Linked DNA regions of Homo sapiens: regions 1, 2 and 3 are each linked to region 4. The links come from fine-mapping of genetic effects on plasma protein levels. A gene starts in region 4. Each other region holds a variant in brackets. All regions are shown on one strand. Distances are from middle to middle.

Region 1 (5,148 bases), 120 kb before region 4:
TCCTGTGTCAACAGCTTTGCCTGGTGCATTCTAATTGCTCAATGAATGAACTCTACTGTGCCTGGTAAAAGGCTCCACACAGTACTGGACACATACTGGGTCCAATACTCTTCATGACATGGAGGAAAGGGTTCTTAAGCACTATAATAATCTGGACTGCAGGTTTTCTCCAGTTTATTTTAATTCCATGAACAATTATTAAGGACCTACAATGTGCCACACACTTGTGCAAAGCTCTGGGGACTGCAAAGACTACAGGTTCTACTGCTGAGGGGCTTACCTTTTGTCTCTCTTATACAAGTAAAACAAAAACAAAAACAAAAAACCTTCCTAAGGTAAGGTCATACACCTGCCCCAGCTCAGAAACTTTTGATGGCTCTTTATTTCCCATGAGAAAAAGGAACACATTCAGGGTGATTAGCATACTGAAGATAATGGATAACATGCACTGCATGGTCGCGATTTCTGCTGGGCTCTGACCAAATGATTTCTCTCTCTCTCCTCCCTCTCTCTCTGCTGGGCTGTGGCCAAATGATCTCTGCATTGTCATATTTACTGCTCCCCCAAACTTTACAAAGCAGTAACATTATTCCTATTTTATTGATCGGGAAACTGAGGCTCAGAGAGGTGAAGTTCCTTGTTCAAAGTCACGCAGTTTTAACTGGAAGAGGTAGGACTTAAAACCCAGATGTTTGAGCATTATGCCACCCTGCTTTTCCTTTCTTACTGTATGGGCAAAAGTTTAAGAATAAAATGTCCTAATAACCAGAAAATGAAGGAAAGCAAGCAAGCAAGCAAGAAAGAAAGAAAGAAAGAAAGAAAGAGAAAGAGAAAGAAGCAAGAAAGCAGGAAGCAAGCAAGCAAGCAAGAAAGAAAGAAAGAAAGAGAAAGAGAAAGAAGCAAGAAAGCAGGAAGCAAGCAAGCAAGCAAGAAAGAAAGAGAAAGAGAAATAAGGAAGCAAGCAAGCAAGAAAGAATCAAATGAATCAGGTGGAGCTTCCGTGTGTGTGTGTGTGTGTGTGTGTGTGTGTGTGTGTTTATGCACGTGCATGCGTGTGTGTATGTGTGTGTGAGATAAGCAGAGTATCAAGGGATTTTCCTTCTGGGAAATACCTCAGAATTTGTCAGCATGTTCCCTCTATCCCCACAAGCTATTTTAGCAAAGCATTGAGTTAAGAACTCCTACTCATTCGCCAAAACCCAGCTAAAGTTGGCCTGGTTGGGCAAAGACAGAACCAAACTAGTTAGCATAACAGTAAGCCTGACTCAGACAATCCTCCTGAGACTTCCTGCTAGACGAGGCAGCCTCTGTGAGGTACTCTCCTGGGGTTACCTGGAGCTCCACCCCATAGCCAGTGTAGACTGTCACGTTGTATGTGCACTCCAGAAAGTTGTTGAGGGGCAGCAGTGGGTAGTCGCTGGAGTCAATGTACCCCTCAGGATTGGAGAAGCTCACACTGCAGAGAGCTGGAAGGAAGGACTTTAATTAGGACACCAAAGACAACTTGGATGTAAGCTCAACCATGGGCTGTGGGGTGGAATGGGGGCTTTAGGGGAACCTGCATTTTGCTGTTCCCATCTGTCCTTCTGCTGTTAATTCCTCAGCTCCAGAATTGACATGATAATAAAAATAGCAATAATTGACACAGAATGATCACTTACTATATCCTGCTAGGCACCATTTTAGCTAGTCAACAGGGGTGACCCCACTTATTCTCATAGGGACTGATAATATTTCATCCCCAGTTTAGAGGGAAGTAAACAAAAGCTCAGAGAGGGGCCGAGCTCAAACAGCAAGCAGGATTTGGACCCAGAGCTCACGTGCTTTGAAGGGTGGCCACATTGCACTTGTCCAAAATCCATGTATGCTTGACAATTGGGGGTCCTTCTCCCATTTTAAAGATGGTAGAGAAGACTGGAACACAGAAGAGCATTTTATCAAGTCTAGAAAATACATGTAATGCTAAAAGCAAATGTGCTTTGAAAAGGCTAGTGGCTTTGAAGCAGGTTAAATGAAGAATTCCGTTCCAAGATGAAAAGGTTTTGAATCTTGCTCATTAGCTGTGTGACCTTTGGCAGGTTGCTTGGGGGTCTCAGGGTTTCAGTTGTCTCATCTTTAAAATGGGGATGTTGGCTGAGTGTCCTGGCTCATGCCTGTAATCCCAGTGCTTTGGGAGGCTGAGGTGGGAGGATTGCTTGAGCCCAGGAGTTCCCCAGCCTGGACAATAAGCAAGACCCCCTTTCTACAAAAAACAAAAAAATTAGCTGGACATCATAGTGCATGCTTGTAGTCCCAGCTACTCAAGAGGCTGAGGCAAGAGGATCACTTGAGCACAGGAGTTTGAGGCTGCAGTGAGCTATGATCGTGCCATGGCACTCCAGCCTGGGCGAAAGATCAAGACCCCTTTGCTAAAACAACCCCCCAAAACAACAAACAAATGAAATGAGGCTATTAATTCTGAGCCACAGGGCGAAGCTCATAGTCAGTGCTCAATGGACGGTAACTGATGGTGGGGCCGGGGCTTCTTGAGATTCCTCTACCCACATGCCCTGAACATAGTGAGTGCCTCATGGCTGTTTCAGGATGGCTTCAGGAGTTGGGGGCTGCATACCTGGTGCCTGCTCGGTGGTGATGACCGTGGTGGTGATAATGGTGGAGGTAGTGGTCTCCTGGCTCTCCTCTGAGGCTGACCCAGTCAGCTCATTCTCACCTTTGTCCATCAGGGCCATGGGGCTGGTGTCCTCCTGGGGGGCCTCCTGGGCCATGTCAGGCCCAGGCTCCCCGGGTTCTGGCCTCTGGGGGAGTGTGTGGGCCACATAGGGCTGCGAAGTGAAGGGGGAGATTTGCAGGGGTGCGGGTGTTGTAGGGACCGCACTCTCCTTTCGGTCCAGC[C/A]AAAGGGGCACTTCTGATGCCTCCTCGGAGGCCACGATGGGGTCCGGGTCCCCCGGTGGGCCAGGCTTCTCCGTGGAGGAGGAGAGGAGATCTAGGCCCTGGGACGCTGGCTGGGACCCTGCCCTTTGGACAGTGGCTGCGGAGGTGGCCTTGGGCCTCAGCTGCTTCCTGGCAGAGTTCACCTGCTTGAGCGAAGGCAGTTTCTTCTTGGGGGGCAAGGCGTGCTTGGGGCGGGCCTCCTCTGGAAGCAGCGGTGACAGGGCTGGGATGTCGTGATGTGCAGAGGGTGCGGTCCCATCCAGCACCAGCTCGCCCAGCACTTCCGCCGACTGTGAGGAACTGGGGGGCGCTGTTACCACTCTCTCTTCAGGGTGCTCTTTGCCAGGACTGCCTCTCTCCGGGGCTCCTGAGGGCAGGAGGTAAGGACCCAAAGGGCTAGCATCTCCCTCGGGAAGAGCATCTTGGAAGAGGAGAAAAGACACCAGTTAGTTTGGGGAGATTTAGGACCTTCACCTGCTGTCAGACTCTGAGGGTGGCCCTCCTAAGGGCGGTGCCCAAAGCTCGTCCGGCTGGCCTCTAAACCAACTTCTCCTTTCTCCCTCCCTCCCTTCCTTTCTTTTTTCTCCTCCTTCCCTCTCTCCCTCTTTCTCTTTTCTTCCTTCTTTTCCTCCCACCCTCCCTCCTTCCTTCTTTCCTTCCTCCTTCCTTCCTTCCTTCCTTTCTTTCTTTCTTTCCTCCCTCCCTCCTTCCTTTCCCCTTCCATTTTTTTCTTTCTTCCTTCCTCCTTCATTTTCTTCCTTCATTTCCTTCCTTCTTTCCTTCCATCCATCCTTCCTTCCTTCCTTCCTTCCTTCCTTCCTTCCTTCCTTCCTTCCTTCCTTCCTTCCTTTTCCTGAAGACTTGGGCTTGATCATGCCAGGACTGAGCTAAGCATTAGGAGTATAGAAACAAAAAGCACAGGGGCCTCACTGCCTGGTTGTATATGTACTGGGAAGGGGGATGGGAAAGTAGACACAATCATATTTGATATGATGAATGCTTGGAAAGAGAAAAGCTTGTGTGCTAAGAGAGCAGAGAGGACGGGCCCTAACCCCGTCTGCAGGACAGGCATGCCATGTACAGTTGGGCAGATTGTTCCCTGTACAAAGACATGCAGCTAAGAGGATGAGTGGGGATGGACACCAGGCCACACTCTCTTTTCTAAGCTGTGTGCTCTGGCTGGGCTTGGGGGATGGGGGAGGAGAGTTTTTTTAAATTTAAATTTTAATTTTAAGTTCTGGGGCCTATGTGCAGGATGTGCAGGTTTGTTATGTAGGTAAACATGTGCCATGGTGGTTTGCTGCACCTATCAACCCACGCTAGGTATTAAGCCCAGCATGCATTACCTATTTTTCCTAATGCTCTCCCCTCCCCCAACTCCACCCCGCAACAGGCCCCAGTGTGTGTTACTCCCCTCCCTGTGTCCATGTGTTCTCATTGTTCAACTCCCACTTATAAGTGAGAACATGTGGTGTTTGGTTTTCTGTTCCTGCCTTAGTTTGCTAGGGATAATGTCTTCCAGCTCCATCTATGTCCCTGCAAAGGACATGATTTTGTTTGTCTTTATGGCTGCATAGTATTCCATGGTGTACATGTACCACATTTTCTTTATCCAGTCTATCATTGATGGGCATTAGGTTGATTCCACGTCTTTGCTATTGTGAATAGTGCAGCAATGAACATGTGCATGCATGTATCTTTGTAACAGAATGATTTATATTCCTTTGGGTATATATGTAATGGGACCCAGTAATGGGATTGCTGAGTCAAATGCTATTTCTGGTTCCAGATCTTTGAGGAATCTCAGCACCATCTTCCACAATGGTTGAATTAATTTACATTCCCACCAACAGTGTAAAAGCAGGGTTGGGGGAGGTACATTTTAAACTGAAGGAATGTAAGAGTGACCTTGTGGGAGACACAGAAATGTTTTAGGATTCAGAGTCACGAGGCAGATTCAGAACAGAGGACTGTGTGAAGACCCATGGAGGCTTGGAGGCTGGGCAGAGGTGGGCACAAAAGAATTGCAAGGGGTTTTGGAGCACAAGTGGAGAGTACGGGGGATAAAGCTGGTAAGGTAGGGAGGCAGGGGCCAGGCCCTGGAGGGCCTTGTATACCTTGCTAACTTCTTGTAATTCATTTTGTTTTTTCTTGAGACGGATCTCACTATGGCTGGTTGCAAACTCCTGGGATCAAGTGATCCTCCCACCTTGGTCC
Region 2 (5,148 bases), 200 kb before region 4:
ATGTGACAGTTAGAGGGTTTACAGGCAATCTTTACTCAGGAACTTCCCAATACTTAAGCTCTGCAAAGCAGGTTTCCTGTGCTATCAAAAATAAATTCAGGTCGGGTATGATGGCTCACGCCTGTAATCCCAGCACTTTGGGAGGCTGAGGTGGACAGATCCCTTGAGCCCAGGAGTTCAAGACCAGCTTGGGCAAAATGACAAAACTCCGTCTCTATTAAAAATACACAAATAAAATAAATTCAAACACTGGGCTGGACTTAGTCAAAATTATGGGGGAATGAGGGAAGGCAGCTGTCTTGAATGCTAATTGTGGATTTCTTACTGTTCGCTGCTCTTCAAAAGGACCCCTTGTTCTCTTATTAGGAACTGCTTACGGCCGGGCGCAGTGACTCCGCCTGTAATCCCAGCACTTTGGGAGGCAGAGGTGGGCGAATCACGAGGTCAGGAGATCGAGACCATCCTGGCTAACACGGTGAAAACCCGTCTCTACTAAAAATACAAAAAATTAGCCGGGTGTGGTGGCGGGCGCCTGTAGTCCCAGCTACTCGGGAGGCCGAGGCAGGAGAAATGGCGTGAATGCGGGAGGCGGAGCTTGCAGTGAGCCGAGATCCAGCCACTGCACTCCAGCCTGGGGGACAGAGCGAGAATCTGTCTCAAAAAAAAAAACAAAAGAACTGCTTATATAAGTCATTGTCATTCACGTGATGAGCCCCTGCTTGATACCTGGTAAGATTAAATTGCAACCCTCATGCTAGTGTTTCCCATACTTGGCTGATGATACAATTCACCTGTGTGGTTAGTTAAACTGGTCCCTGGGTCCTGCTTTAGACCCAGTGAATCAGAATCTCCGTGGAAAGGGCTCAGGACTCCGTTTATGTTTGGAAATCACGGCCTTAAATGGTTCTCACATTCAAAGTGCATTTGAGAGCTTGTTAAAAGGCTTATTCCAGGCCCGCCTCTCAATGATTTTGCTTTGGGAGATCTGGGTTAGATTCGGGAATGTGTGAACACACCTAGGTTTCCATGCTGCGGTGACTGGCTGGTTGGGGGTCTTTCTTAGTAGCCCTGAAGGCGGGAAATTTACAGTCATGAGATGCGGGTTCAAGTCCTAGCTTTGTCTTGTACTAGCTGTGTGGCTTTGGGAAAATCACTTAACTTCTCTGAGCTTCTCCTTCCACATCTGTAAAACAGGTAAGATGGCTCACCTATCTTAGACAGTGGTCATAAGACTTAACAGAGGTGATTCAGGGGAATTGTTTTTTTTTTTAGGTAGATAAAATTCACATAACATAAAATTAACCATTTCAAAGTGTTACAATTCAGTGGCATTCAGCATATTCACAATGGTGCGCAACCATGACCTCTGCCTAGTTCCAAAACATGTTCTTCATCTCCAAAACAAGCCCCATACTCAGTAAGCAGTCCCTAGACAACCACGACTCTGCTTTCTGTCTCTATGGATTTACCTATTCTAGATGTTTCCTAGAAACAGAACCCTAAAACATGTGACCTTTTGTGTCTGGCTTCCTTCACTCAGCATAACGGCTTTGAGGTTCATCCATGTTGTGGTATGTGTCAGTATTTCGTTCCTTTTAATGGCTGAATAATATTCCCTTTTTTCTGCCACACTTTTGTTTATCCATTCATCAGTTGGTGGGCATTTGGGTTGTTTCCATCTCGTGGCTATTGTGAATAGTGCTCCTATAAACATTCTTAGACAGGGTTTGCTTAAATACCTGTTTCACTTCTTTTGGAAATATACCTCGGAGTGGACAAACTAACTGGGAAAGTAGTTTTAAGCCTCAGAGCTGGGGTTCATGAATAAGGCATTTGGGGATCCACTGAAGTTAGGGGTTCCCAAGTAGAGACATAAAACTTCATGCTTCTGTTCCTTCTGGAGGGCAAATTCGAGCCTTTTGCCTGATTCTCAAAGGGGCACTAAAGCAATAAAGGTTAAGATCCACTGGCCTAAAACACTGAACATATTTCCGTTACTATTACTGATTGTGCACTTCAAAAGTCCAGATAAACGAATCCAAATTTTACTTAGTGTGTTACAACTTAATTTTAGTGATGAGTGTTCAATGGATTCTAAGATGCAATTTTCTCACTTCACCATCTGGGAGGTGGGGGCGAGGCTTAAAGCAATAATGTGTAATAATAGCTGCCACCAGGTGGCGCTCACGATTCCCCGTGTGCACAAACTGGGGGCGTTAAGAGTATTAGGGTTTGCAGAACGCCAGGTAACGCCCTGGGAGATCACCCTGTAGGCAGTGGAGGAACACTCCTAACCCATGGGAACTAACTGGTTGTGAGGAGGCAGTGCAAGAGGTGGGAAATAATTAAGCAGGGTTCTCTAAGCAGGGGTCAAAAGCAGGCAGAGGTCAGATGCGGTAATCCCAGCACTTTGGGAGGCCGAGGTGGGAGGATCGTTTGAGGCCAGGAGTAGAGACCAGCCTGGGCAACATAGCGAGACCCCCATCTCTACAAAAATAAAAAAATTTA[G/C]CTGGGCGTGGTGGCGTGCACTTGTGGTCCCAGCCACTCGCGAGGCTGAGGTAGGAGGATAGCTTGAGCCCAGGTGGTTGAGGCTGCAGTGAGTAATGATCACGCCACTGCATTCCAGCCTGTGCAACAGAGTAAGACCCTGTCTCCAAACAAACAAACAAACAAAAACAAACAAACAAATCAACAAAAACCAGGCTGGATCACAGGGCCGGGACTAGGGCAAGGCGAGAGCTGTCTAGGGCGAGAAGTGTACGGAGACTCTTTTTTTAAGGCTGTTCTACGGGACGCTTGGTCACCTCCTTACATTTTTCACCTCAGGCACCTCTTTTGCCTCAGACTCGTCCCAGCCCTGCCTCAATGTAACTGCAAGCCCCTTGTATCAAAGACTTTAGTTCGTTATGGACGTTCCTACAGAATTCTGCATCCCTGATGCTTTAATGGGACAGGAGCTATGTATGTATGTAAATGTATATATATTTTAGTACACAATGACATTCAACAGGAGCGATATTGAGTGGAAAAATAGGATGTTGAAGACTTGGAGTAAAAAATGATTCTACAGCTGGGTGTGGTGGCTCATACCTGCAATCCCAGCTACTCAGAGGCAGAGGAGGGAGGATCGCTTGAGGTCAGGAGTTCTAGGCCAGCCTGGCCAACATAGCAAGACCCTGTCTCTACAAAAAAATTTAGTAATAATTTAGAAAATCAAAAGTGCCAGACTTTGAAGGTGGGGAAGTTTTAAATACACTGGAACCAGTTTATTTTGCTTGTATTTTGTTTGTTTGTTTGTTTGTTTGTTTGAGACAGAGTCTCACTCTGTCACCCAGGCTGGAGTGCAGTAGCATGATCATAGCTCATTGCAACCTCTGTCTCCTGGGATCAAGTGATCCTCCCACCTTAGCCTCCCAAGTAGCTGGGACTACAGGCACACGTCACCACATCAGGTTAATTTTTGTATTATTATCATTATTTTGTTTTTGTAGAGACAGTTTCACCATGTTACCCAGGCTGGTCTCAAACTCCCCGGCTCAAGCAATCCTCCCACCTCAGCTTCCCAAAATGCTAGGATTACAGGTGTGAGCCACTGCACCTGGGCTGCTTATATTTTCATTTGAACATTTTCATAATTGTGATATATGATAAAAAGCTTAAAGACCTTTATGTTTTCATTTTTTAGATAGAATCTCGCTGTGTCACCCAGGCTGGAGTGCAGTGGAGCCACCTCGGCTCACTGCAACCTCTGCCTCCTGGATTCAAGTGATTCTCTTGCCTCAGCCTCCCGAGTAGCTGGGACTTCAGGCATGCACCGCTACGCCCAGCTAATTTTTTTGTATTTTAAGTAGAGATGGGGTTTCACCATGTTGGTCAGGCTGGTCTTGAACTCCTGACCTCAAGTGATATGCCTGCATCAGCCTCCCAAAGTGTTGGGATTACAGGCGTGAGCTACTGTGCCTGGTCAAAAGCTCCTTTAGTAAGTAAAAATAAAAATGCTAAGCCAGGAGAAGACATTGTGTCATAGTATAATTGGCAGCATGTTTTTTTCTTTTTTAGTGGTGCATAAAGTCATGGTGACATCTTAGATTTAATGAAGTACAGCAGCTCAGCTCTATTATTTTAAAATTTAATTTAATTTTTTTGAGATAGAGTCTCGTTCTGTCCGGGCTGGAGTGCAGTGGCATGATCAAGGCTCACTGCAACCTTGACCTCCTAGGCTCAGGTGATCCTCCCATCTCAGCCTCCCGAGTAGCTGGGACTACAGGTGTGTGCCGCCATGCCTGACTAATTTTTTTTTTTTTGGTAGAGATGGGGGTCTCACTATGTTGCCTCGGCTGGTCTCGAACTCCTAGTCCAATTTTTTAGAGCAAGTTCAGAACTCCTGTGAGCCAGGAGCCTGACATCTCCAGGCCCCGTGGACCCTGTGTGGTGAGTAGGTTTCTTTACCTTTACACACGGGCAGGGGCCCGTTCCAGTGGGATGGCTGTCCCAGGATGCAGCGGATGGTCACTTCACCCATGAGCTCAAAGCCTTCGTAGCACATGAAGGTGAGGGACTCTCCTGGCAGGTAGAGTCGCTTGTACAGGATTTGGTATCCATTTTCAGGCAGCCCTGGGTTGTCACATGCCAGGGACTCCTCCGCTGAAATGCAAGCCAGAAGGAGCTCTGATGAGATGATGCAAATCTTTGGGGAGTCCTGCTCAGAACCCGTGTGATCTAGCTTTGGTCAGCCTCTCCAGCATCCTCTCTCTGCATCCCCACCTTGCATCAGACTGTTTTCTATTTCTCAAACTGTTCTTTCTGTCTTCCACCTCTGGGCACAGATTACATACAGGCAAGGTAGAATGAAGTTGGCTGAGGAATCAAGGTTAAAATATGAGTTCTGTTACTTGTTAGCTGTGTGATCGCCAGCAAGTGGCATAACCTTTCTGATCCTTAGTTTCCTCATTAGCATAACGACGATCAAAGTAATATCTATCTCCTAGGAATTTGGAGGACTAAAATAGGTAAGTAAGGAAATGCTTAAGATGTTTTGTTTTTGGCATGTCATACGTACTTAGTAAATGATGGACGGTGGTGGTGTTTAATTATGAAATCTTCTTCTTGCTTTTCACCTGACACCTAACCTGCGCATCCATTATGACT
Region 3 (5,148 bases), 200 kb after region 4:
GGGAGAAAACTGGAGGAACTCCAGGCCAAGAGCCACTGGGTTCTGTCCTACGTTCTGTGTTCTATATTTCTATGGTCTGAAGGTTCTAAGAGGTGCTATTGTTCTATGTTCTAAAAATGCAAAGCCCTGAAGGGCAGATGTGCTCAGGAAACCCTTTTGATTGATATTCACAGCCACCACCACCACCCCATTTTTAAGAGTAAGCTCTCACTTTTGCATGTGTGAATGTTTCATGGGTTCACTCGGCAATTAGTAAATATTGGAACACCTACTAAGTGTGTGGTTAGCTTCTGGACCCCACACTGGAAGCACCAAGAAGAAAGTGATGCTTAACAATAGGAAGTAGATAGTGTCCTTCAGAAACAAGATCTAGAAGCAAAAAAACAAATCAGTAATACAGAGGCAGGAACCATAGCTAAATTGTGTAGTGGATTGTGTGGGTGAGATCTGCATGGGAGGAGATCCTATCTCTTTTTTTTTTTTTTTTTTTCCTTTGAGACAGAGTCACTTTGTCACCCAGGCTGGAGTGCAGTGGCACGATCTTGGCTCACTGCAACCTCCACCTCCTAGGTTCAACCAATTCTCATGCCTCAGCCACCGGAGTAGCAGGGATTACAGGCATGCACCACCACACCCAGGTAATTTTTGTATTTTTAGTAGAGAAGGGGTTTCGCCATGTTGGCCAGGCTGGTCTCCAACTCCTGCCCTCAGGTGATCCACCTGCCTCGGCTTCCCAGAGTGCTGGGATTACAGGCGTGAGCCACCGTGCCCAGCCGAGATCTCGTCTCTAACCTCTCTCAGCCTTAGTCTCCTCACCTGCAATTCAGTGCTGATGAAATACCGACATCAGGGCTCCTGCCATGCTGCTGTGCCTAGGAGTCACCTGGGACCTTGTTAAAAAGCCAATTCTGACTCAAAGGTGTGGGGCTGAGCCTGAGACTCTACATTTCTATAGCCAAGGCTGCTGATCTGCGAATATATTTTGAAAAGTAAAGCCATAAGTCACACGAAATTGAAGAGAATTAAATGACATGAGGTATAAAACATGCTCAGGCCTGGCACAAATGATAGGCTGTTATATAAGTAATAATAACAAGTAAATACAAGCTATACATAATGCAACTTAAAATATACCTCCAGCTGACATCCTTAACAGATGCAAACCAAGCAAGCAACTAACCACAGAATCACAAATCGGGGTTCTGGTCACACTTTTCCTATGTATATATATATGCATATATTCATGGAAAAATATATATGTAATGACCTGTGAGTCATATATAAATATAAAATACATATATTTTATTTATATATATATGTATGTATTTTTTTTTTTGAGACAGTCTCACTCTGTCACCCAGGCTGGAATGCAGTGGCATGAATCCCAGTGATCCCAGCACTTTGGGAGATAGAGGCAGGTGGATCACCTGAGGTCATGAGTTCGAGACCAGCCTGGCCAACATGGCAAAACCCCGTCTCTACTAAAAAAATTTTTTTTTTTTGCCCTTTCAGGTTAAGTGAATCTTAACTATGAGTATCAGCACACATAAGTCTGAATTGTCCCTAGGACCCTGTTTGAAAATCATACCAGTTAAAATGCAAACATGATTGTTAGATTTGACATGCAGCCATGTCTTTGGCTTACAGACAACAAGTCTTTAATGTCGACCCAACTACAACAAAAACTACTCTCTCTAAACAACAAAAGTGCATAAACAGAATCTTAATTTGCATACTTGGGATTTCCTAACTGAGGCCGCGCCTTTGTGATGGAAACGAAATAGTCTGAACACAGGAAGGCATCTTGGTGTGGGAAGGCACTGGTAGGAACAGACAACAGAAGGATCATCCTGGGAAACTCAGAGCTGCCAGACTCTCAAATGAGCTACAAAAAGATCTGCATCACTGAACTGTAACCATAGCTAGGGCCAACAGGAAAGCAGACAGCCTTCTTTATTTGGTTTCACTCTCTCATGTTTTTTGGCTGGGGTCAGCGGGTGAGTACTACAAAGAATTACAATTTATTGACCACTTAACATGTGCAAAACATTCTAATCTCCCAACTACCTGATAACCCATTCTACAGATGAAGAAACAAAGACTCAAAGAGGACAGGTGCCTGAAAGAGATCGAGACAAGATTTAAACCCAGCTCTGCTGTCTGCCTCCAACTCCACTTCTTCTTCCAACAGAGCATAGAGCAAGAGTTGGCCAACTACAGCCCGTGGGCCAAATCCAGTCCACCATCTGTTTTTCTAAATAAAGTTTTATTGGAACATAACCACGCTCATCTATTCATTCATTTGCATAATGTCTAGGGCTGCTTTTGTGCTGCGACAGCAGAGTTGAGTAGTTGTGACAGAGACAGTATGGACTACAAAGTCTAAAATATTTACTACCTGTCCCTCTACAGAAAATACTTGCCAGTCCCTGGATCAGAGCATCCAGTTGCTACCTGTGTGCAAACTCAGCAGGCTCTCAGAAAGAAGCAAAAACCGAAAATCATCTTATTTCTTGAGTTCCTTTCCTTTTGTTTGCTGAAAAGTGACATCAGTCTTTTTTCTTCTCCCCACCCACCAAGCAATTAGCTCACAAAGGCAGGAGCCTGAAGGATTCCCCCTGAGTGTTT[A/GTTTATA]AGTCTCTCTCCAGCAGGACGCTTTGTCTCCAAACCACTGCCAAACTTTAATAACAGCATCAACCACATCATCTTCCACCAAAAGCAAACAGGAAAGCTAGTTCTGCCGCCCAGCTGGGTGGATGTCAGCTGCAGACAGCTGCAAATTGCCTGAACAAGGACAGATGTAGCTTGTTTTTGCCTTTCTTTTTCCATTTGAAAACTTTGAGAGGGGGAGATGAGAATGCTGTTAGGGAAATGAATGTGTTGATTCTAATTATCCAAGCGGGCGGGCGGCAGAGGTGACATGCAGCAAGATGGGCTCCGAGTCATTTACCTGGAATGCAGCCAAGACAAGGCTGGAGAAGGCAGAATTCCAATGAAGCTGACACTCAGGACACTGAGCACAAAGAAGGAGGCATCTATGAACTCACAGGTCACAAGGTGGGGTATACTGCATTTGGGGACGTCATTCACAGAATTTTCAAATAGGAAATAATTCAACCACTGGCCTAGACTTATATGCCTGCTCTGAATCACAGGGCTTGCCTACTCTTGAAGGGGCTCTGCAGTGCTCTTTGATTCTAGTCTCACTCTGATAATGATGTGATGATGATGGCGGTGGTCACAGTGATGAGAGTGATAATAATAATTTTCATGATGGTGGTGGTGGTAATGATGGTGATGATAATGATGGTGGTGATCAAGATGATGATTGATGGTGATGGTGATGATGATGCAAATGGTGGTGATGATGACAGTGATGAAGATAATGATGGTAATGGTTGTGGTAACAATGGAGGTGATGCTGATGGTGGGAATGGTGGAAAAGATGATGTGTTGGTGGTGATGGTGGTGGTGATGAAGAAGATGATATGGCAATGATGATGATAATGATGATGATGATGGTTATTATGATGATGATGATAGGCGGGCTTACTTTGTGCCAGGCACTGTAATAAGTATTTAAACACATTATTTTATTAAGTAATCCCCACAATGCTGTGAAGCAGTTGCAATAATTGTCTCCATTTTATGAGTTAACAGGGAAACAGAGAAAGTGAGTGCCTTGACTAAAGTCACACAGTAAGGACATGATGGAACTGAGATTTGCATCTAAGTCTCCTTATTCCCAGTTCTTTGTCCTGTCAAGCTCTTTCTTCTCTCAGCATGTATTTTTTTATGCCTACTCTGTGCTAAGCAATGTTCTAGGGCAAAGGTAAGTGATTTTTTTTTCTGTAAAGGACCAGGTAGTATATATCTTGGACTTTGTAGGCCAAATGGTCTTATCACAAATACTCCTCTCTGCTGTTGTAGCCCCAAAGCAGCCATAGAAAATAGGTAAATGTTTGTGACTATGTCTTAATAAAACTTTATTTATAAAAATCAGGACAGCAGCCAGATCTGACCATAGGTTATCAAGCTGTATTTTATGGTGCTGCCTCAGGGGCCAGGGTGGAAAAGTAGATGAGCCCTAATGGGGAGCTCTGCTTTTACTTACCACAAATCTGTATCAGCTATGGATTTAAAATAAGATTTGGCTACTTAAAAGAAGAAAAAAACGTGGTAATCTCTGGATACCTCCTTGCTAACTCCCAGGTGAGATAAGCAAGGGATATCTCTCTGTCCTTTGAAACCCTCTCTCCAACAGATAAGGTGACACATCTGGAATCCAGTTGTGGGGTAGCTATAGAATCAATCTAGAATGGGATGGAGAAGGGGAGGTCTATGGGAATGTTGTTGCCCACAGAGGTAGTAATTTCCCCAACCCCACAGTTGCATAACAGAGATGGAATTTTTACCAGTCTGAGGTTGGAGAAGATACCAGTTGGAATGAAGAGGCCTGGGCACCTTCAGGTTTGAGATTGTGTGACTCTGTGCATTGCTCTTGGGGTGTAGGAATGTGCTTGTTTCAGAGGAAGCTGCCACCATGACTATCAGCCATTTGAGACACACTCAAAGCTTGCAGCTCTATGACCAACCAGCTCTGGGCTTGCCCAGGGGTCTCAGCAGAAAGAGCTTTAAAAGTCGTCTGGTCCGTTTTACAGAGAGAGAAAGTGAGTCCAGCAAGGGAAAAGATGTGCCCAAGTCCACAGAGTCAGTCAGAGGCAGAAGTGTGGCTTGGACCCAGACTTCCTGGCTTCAAGGCAAGCTCCTCCTACTGTGTGAGCCACTCCCTTTGAGAAGATAGAAAGGGAATTTAGGCTGTCCACTTCCGGCCTCCATTTCCTTTCTTTGATCCACCCTACTTATGGGATGTCCCAGCCCCAGGAGTAACAGAAAATATACAAAAAGGAGGAGGAAAAAGTCAAGCAGGAGGCAGGAACACAAGCAGAGAAGATAAAACCTAGAAGGGGCCTGTGGCAAGGCAGAGAGATCTCTGCAAGAGTCAAGGCCCACAGATGTGGCTTCCACAGTGGGCATCCAAAGGCTTTGCCTTTTTGGAAACCATTTCTCCTCCTTCTGGCACTAACATTTCAATTTTCCTTGGGGGAATCTATTCTTCTACTCTCCATCCATATGGCTAGGGTGGAGCTGACT
Region 4 (5,129 bases):
TTGCAGTCTTTGCATGTAGTTACAATTATTCCCCATGTGCATATCTGAGACAATAAGGAGGCTCTTCAAAAACAAGTTATACTTTATACTTATTCATGCCTTACAGCGAAATGGCCCAGAGAACCACGTGACCTGCATCAGAATGTAGCAACAAGTCCCTTTTGAGTATTTACAAATCCCCTCACTTCACCGCAAGCAGAAGAACTAGTTCGCAACAACGAGTTAGGTGAATGGTTCTCCATCTGACATTAGTGGATGTTGGGCTCTACATTAAAAATAGAATTTATTGTGGAAGGTCAATTGTCTCCAAATGCACCATCAGACTCGGCAATGCTCATTGGCCAGTATCACTCCCTCCTTATGACTCAGAGTCAGAACCACACACTTATTAATGAGCTTTCTGAAGTAGCACATCAATTGACTTTAATTTGGTGGTGACCTGAAGTCAATTTAAAAAATATGCTGGCTAGCCATGGTGTTGAGCAGTTGGAAAAATAGTATGAAATGTCTTAAAAATTAAAACACACACATGTCTCCCCCTGCTCTTACAATGTGTTTGCAGCCCGTGAAGGAAACAGAATAGGAAATCCTTGTCTTAGATGACAATTCAATACGTGCCATTAAGACAATTTTTTTTTCCCTGCAAGGTGGTGTATTGGAGAGTGGAGTTCTCAGAGGTAGAACTGCTTTAGAAAATCCAGTAAGCTGCTGGGTAGATTCAGGTTCTTTTTATATGTGTGTTAGTCACAACACAGATTCAAAAGGGGGTGGGGGAGGGAGAGCTGGACTCAGTTCAAGGCCACCAAGCCATTGTTAGAAAGAGACAGCTAATTAAGAAAGGCCATGCTGTGGTGGAAACGATTTGTTTAAACCAAATCTCTTTCCCTATCTTTCCCAGAGAAACTGTCCAGACCTGGTGTAAATTGTGGACATTATTGCCCCATAAAAAAGGGGTGGGGGTTCTTCAATGATATGCTTTGTTAAACAAAAGGTGATGAACAATTTCCTTTGCTCTGCACTCTGGGCTCTACATTTAAAAAGACGGGGAGATGGGGGATAAAATGCCTGATTTATGCTGAGGGGGGCACTCCAGGCCACCGGGAAGGGTTGAAGGGAAAGGGACCCAGAGCCAGGGCCCATGGAGCTGAGAGCTGTCCAGGGCCTTTGGTGCTGAAAGCAGGTGCGCGCGCTGGGGGTCCAGAACTCCCCGGAGAAGAACACCGCCTGTCCCCCAACTCCGAGTCAAGACGGTGCAAATGACAGAGGCGGAGCCCCAGATAAGCATAGTGCCTGCGCTCCCTCTGTCTTCAGCCTGGGCAGACCCTGCAGCTGTCTGCTTTTTTACACGTGAGGAGCGCATTTCTGGGACCTTGCAAGAAGGCCGGGTCCTGTGGCCAACTAACCCTCCCATTGATTTTCGGGTCTCCTAGGTGCCTGAGAAAACCCCCGAAGCTCTGAGGGTTAGCTTTGGGTGAGTTAGGCGTTGCACCCCTCTCTCTATCTGGCCCTCTCCCCCACCCATAACTTTTCCTGGGGTACCTTACCGGGGTGGAGAGAGGGTATGGTTCCAGGTCTGAGAAAGAGGAGCTGTCATTCTCTGCTAAATTTGGGCCCCTCTTCCCCTTCAACAAACACGTGGTAGATGAAACTAACACCCCTCACCCCCCATTCCTAACAGTGATCAGAGATGCTAGGCAGTAGGGGAGAGAGTAGAGGGGAGCCCGTTCAGGTTCCCAACTGCTAACTAACATCTCTTCTCCCTCCCCTACCAAGTTCTCAGAGCCCTCAGCCCCCTCCACCGGCCTCTAGCGAAAGCCACACCCAAGTCCGGTATCCTGACGCTTGGCTGAGATCGATCCAGGAACACAGACCCTCGGGGTAGCCTGAACCAAAGGAGTCAAGGGTTTCTGTGGTGTCGGGGGGAGCGGCAAATGCACTGTTTGAGTCTAGTCCTCAGTTGCAGGGTGGGTCAGCTTCTCACCCCCCTTCCTGTCCTCTCCCGGAGAGGAAGATAATTATCTGGCACCTAGCCCCGGGTGCGGTTGCAGAGAAGCGCCGGGAATTTGGGGTTTGGAGGCGACCCCACTCCAAGGAGAACCTCTTTGGCTGCAAAGGAGAATCAGCCCCGCAGCCGGGGAAGACCGAAAGGGAGCCCGCAGCCGAAGCAGGGAAGCGCCCGAGTCCTTCAACACATCCCCGCCTCCACACTCCCATCAGCCCGGGCCAAGGGGACGTGCGGTTCCTAGCCCCGATTTTGGACAGCCACCACCGCTTCCCATCCCGGCGGGTGGTGCCTGAGTCGCCCTGGTCAGCCCCGACCCCTGGCTGCCCCGCTCTCCCGGCAACTTTGCCCCCTGCCCGCCCCGCCCCTCGGGGCGCTTACCTCGCTCCAGCGCTGCCGCCGGGCTCCCCAGGAGCAGAGCGAGGAACAGCGAGATCCCGCGGAGTCCCGCGGCGGGCGGCCGGGCCGCGGGCATCGTGGCTGCAGGGGGCGCGGAGCCGCTGGCTGTGGGGCGGGCGGACGGCGAGGGAGCTGGGGAAGGAGGGCGGCGGTGAGCGAGAAAGGGGAAGCGGGAGCGAGGGAGGAGGCCGCGGGCCGGGGCAGCTTCCGGAGCCCCCTGGGCGGACGCGCGCTCAGCCCCGCGGTCGCTCTGGCCGAGCTGCGCCGGGCGCGGGCGGGCGAGTGAGGAGGAGCCGGCGAGCGAGCGAACGAGCGTGGAGCGAGCGGGAGGAGGGAGGGGGCTGGGGCCGAGTCTGTGCCGAGCGAGTGCAGGGAGGGAGGGGGCGGGCGAGCGGGCAGTGAGCTGGAGGGGCCGCGGCGGCGCCGGGGGTGCCAGCCGCCTCCTCTGGCCGCCGGCCCGTCGGCCCTGCAAAGTTTAACGCCAATTCCCCTTGCGTCCTGGGAGCCGAGCGTTTTCTCTCCCTGCTGACGCTCCCAGCAGCTCTGCCTGGCCAGGCCAGGCTGGAGAGCACCCGGACCATTTTCCAGACGGTGAGATGGAGCCCTGGAAACCGAGCTTATGAGCAGCCCGGAGCTTTCCATTGCCTGCCCAGCCTTCCAGATACATCCCAGTTCCAGTTCTTTCCAGAGCCCTCTGGGATCCAGCCAGCCTGCTTCCCCGCCAGGGCCTCACTGCTTCCAAAGTGAGTCCCCATAACCTAGAAAGTCTGTAACTCTGTGGATCTGGTGACAGCTGTGAATCTACTAGAACACTACACATAGCCACAAAATCGTGCATCTAACACGAGGGGGTCTGGACCCCTCTGAAGCCCAATCACGAACTCTAAATTAAGATCCACCTCCACTTTTTAATCTGAGCCCTGTCTCCCATAACCCCACTGCCGGCAGGGCACTAGCGCTGCGAGGCTTCCTCTCAGGTCAGCCGCTTGCCTCTTCCTGTACCCGCTTCCCTATCTGAGCAGGACTACAAGGCCCACCTCTGCAGCATTCTTGCCCAGGCCTGATTCTCAAGCAAAGTCTTTTCTCCACAAATAGAGGTAGTGAGGGACAATCAATGAGGGAGATAAACAGATACTTGGGGACAGACATTGGCAGAGAGCTAGGTGGGGACAAGCTTATGCACAGTCCTGGAGACTGACTGTCTCTCCCTGCGTAGCCTTGGCAGACCGGTCAGGCTTTACAGGCCTCTCACCCAATTTAGAAGCTGTCCTCCTCCCCCTACCCTACCTTGCCATACTATCTACACACTGCAGCCTGAACAGGCAGAGGGAGCAGATGGAGAGAAGGTTGCAGGCAGCAACAGGGGGAGGAATATGTCTTTAGCAGCGTGGTGGAGCCGGGAGTCCCTAGAAAGAATGGGTGGGGGAGGTGAACACTGGATGGAGGAGGGAAGGAGAAGCACTCTGGCCCAGGGTTTCAGAAGACGCTCCACACCCAGAGCTTCCCCATTTACTCACTCAAACAATGCTCTTTTACAGGCCACTGACTATAGGCCCAGACCTGCCTCAGGCTTTGGGGGACAGAGAGCCCCCCCATAAAATCCTATCTTCAGCTGCAAGAGGTTTCCATTCCTGGCAGTAAACCCAACTGGCTTTTATAAAGAAGGTGGCTGAGGCAGGGATGCAGGAGTGCTGATTTCTCCTTTGGAGAAGATGAAGCACTCCATGCTTTACTGTATGAGGCTGCCAGCTCTCTGTGGAATGACCTTGCCTGTTTGTGGCTATACGCTCAGGCTCTGTATAGTATAATGCAGGCATGCAGCGGGTGCTCAGTGAGACTTGTTCAATGGAAACCTAAAGAAGCAAGGAAGATGGAGGAGGAGGGGAAAGGGAAGAAAGCGAGCGAGAGAAAAACGAAGAGGTAGTTTAGCTCCATACTTGGAGGCAAGGAAACTATTTTTAATTCCTAGGTTCAGGGGTACTTGTGCAGGTTTGTTATGTGTGCAAACTTGTGTCATGGGAGTTTGTTGTACAGATGATTTCACCAACCAGGTATTAAGCCTGGTACTCAATAGTAATTTTTTTCTGATCCTCTCCCTCCTCCTGCCTTCCACCCTCTGGTAGGCCTCTGTGTGTGTTGTTCCCCTCTATGTGTCTGTGTGCTCTCATCATTTAGCTCCCACCTATAAGTGAGAACTTGTGATATTTGGTTTTCTGTTCCTGCATTAGTGTGCTAAGGATAATGGTCTCCAGCTCCATTCATGTTTTTGCAAAGAACATGATCTCATTCTTTTTTATGACTGCATAGTATTCCATGGTGTATATGTACCGTATATATGCTCATTCATTGATGAGCATTTAGGTTGATTCCATGTCTTTGCTCTTGTGAATAGTGCTGCAATGAACATACATGGGCATGTGTCTTTATAATAGAACAATTTATATTCCTTTGGGTATATACCCAGTAATGTCAGACAACCTACAGAATGGGAGAAAAATTTTACAAACTATGCATCTGCAAAAGTCTAATATCCAGCATCTATAAGGAACTTAAACAAATTTACAGGAAAAAAACCAAACAACCCAACTGAGAAGGAAACTATTGTGTAAAGAATCCACTGTTTGCCAGGTGCTGTCCCACACCGAGCATGGTCTCTCATTTCAATTTCATAATCTTCCTGAAAACGAGGTGTGGTTATTGCCATCTGAAAGATAAGTATCTGATTTTT

Alleles and levels. Positions count from the first base shown, and alleles are read on the strand shown. Strength reflects both the effect of a copy and how common the allele is.
For the plasma level of the protein whose gene starts at base 2,685 in region 4, allele C in region 1 goes with a higher level than allele A (moderate association).
For the plasma level of the protein whose gene starts at base 2,685 in region 4, allele C in region 2 goes with a lower level than allele G (weak association).
In carriers of allele GTTTATA in region 3, the plasma level of the protein whose gene starts at base 2,685 in region 4 tends to be higher than with A alone (moderate association).

What was found. PIP is the chance, under the fine-mapping model, that this variant and not a neighbour inherited with it causes the effect. The UK Biobank Pharma Proteomics Project read protein levels with antibody pairs (Olink). The fine-mapping took linkage between variants from a reference panel, not from the people measured, so its PIPs are less certain.
Region 1: its variant is fine-mapped to the plasma level of the SEZ6L protein (UK Biobank, PIP above 0.99). The variant lies in the coding sequence of SEZ6L. If it changes the protein, the assay may bind it differently, which can mimic a change of level.
Region 2: its variant is fine-mapped to the plasma level of the SEZ6L protein (UK Biobank, PIP above 0.99).
Region 3: its variant is fine-mapped to the plasma level of the SEZ6L protein (UK Biobank, PIP above 0.99).

What each region holds. Positions count from the first base shown.
Region 1 is chr22:26,290,610-26,295,757 of GRCh38, reverse strand. It overlaps SEZ6L (seizure related 6 homolog like), which reads right to left. Exons shown (of 17, transcript NM_021115.5): 2 at 2,612-3,352; 3 at 1,333-1,466. Among named protein-coding and RNA genes, the nearest start is that of SEZ6L-AS1, 47 kb to the right of the region's middle. The variant C/A (reference allele first, on the strand shown) is at 2,893.
Region 2 is chr22:26,364,868-26,370,015 of GRCh38, reverse strand. SEZ6L (seizure related 6 homolog like) reads right to left here. Exons shown (of 17, transcript NM_021115.5): 13 at 4,450-4,644. Among named protein-coding and RNA genes, the nearest start is that of ASPHD2, 62 kb to the left of the region's middle. RefSeq lists a silencer at 2,136-2,255. The variant G/C (reference allele first, on the strand shown) is at 2,509.
Region 3 is chr22:25,968,301-25,973,448 of GRCh38, reverse strand. The region is part of intron 39 of MYO18B (myosin XVIIIB); the gene reads right to left. Among named protein-coding and RNA genes, the nearest start is that of MYO18B-AS1, 71 kb to the right of the region's middle. RefSeq lists enhancers at 1,670-2,460, 2,461-3,253. The variant A/GTTTATA (reference allele first, on the strand shown) is at 2,629.
Region 4 is chr22:26,167,018-26,172,146 of GRCh38, reverse strand. It overlaps SEZ6L (seizure related 6 homolog like), which reads right to left and starts at 2,685. Exons shown (of 17, transcript NM_021115.5): 1 at 2,384-2,685. The coding sequence starts at 2,477. It overlaps LOC105372971 (a long non-coding RNA gene), which reads left to right and starts at 2,913. Exons shown (of 6, transcript NR_188586.1): 1 at 2,913-3,144. RefSeq lists an enhancer at 767-1,706 and a silencer at 2,533-2,662.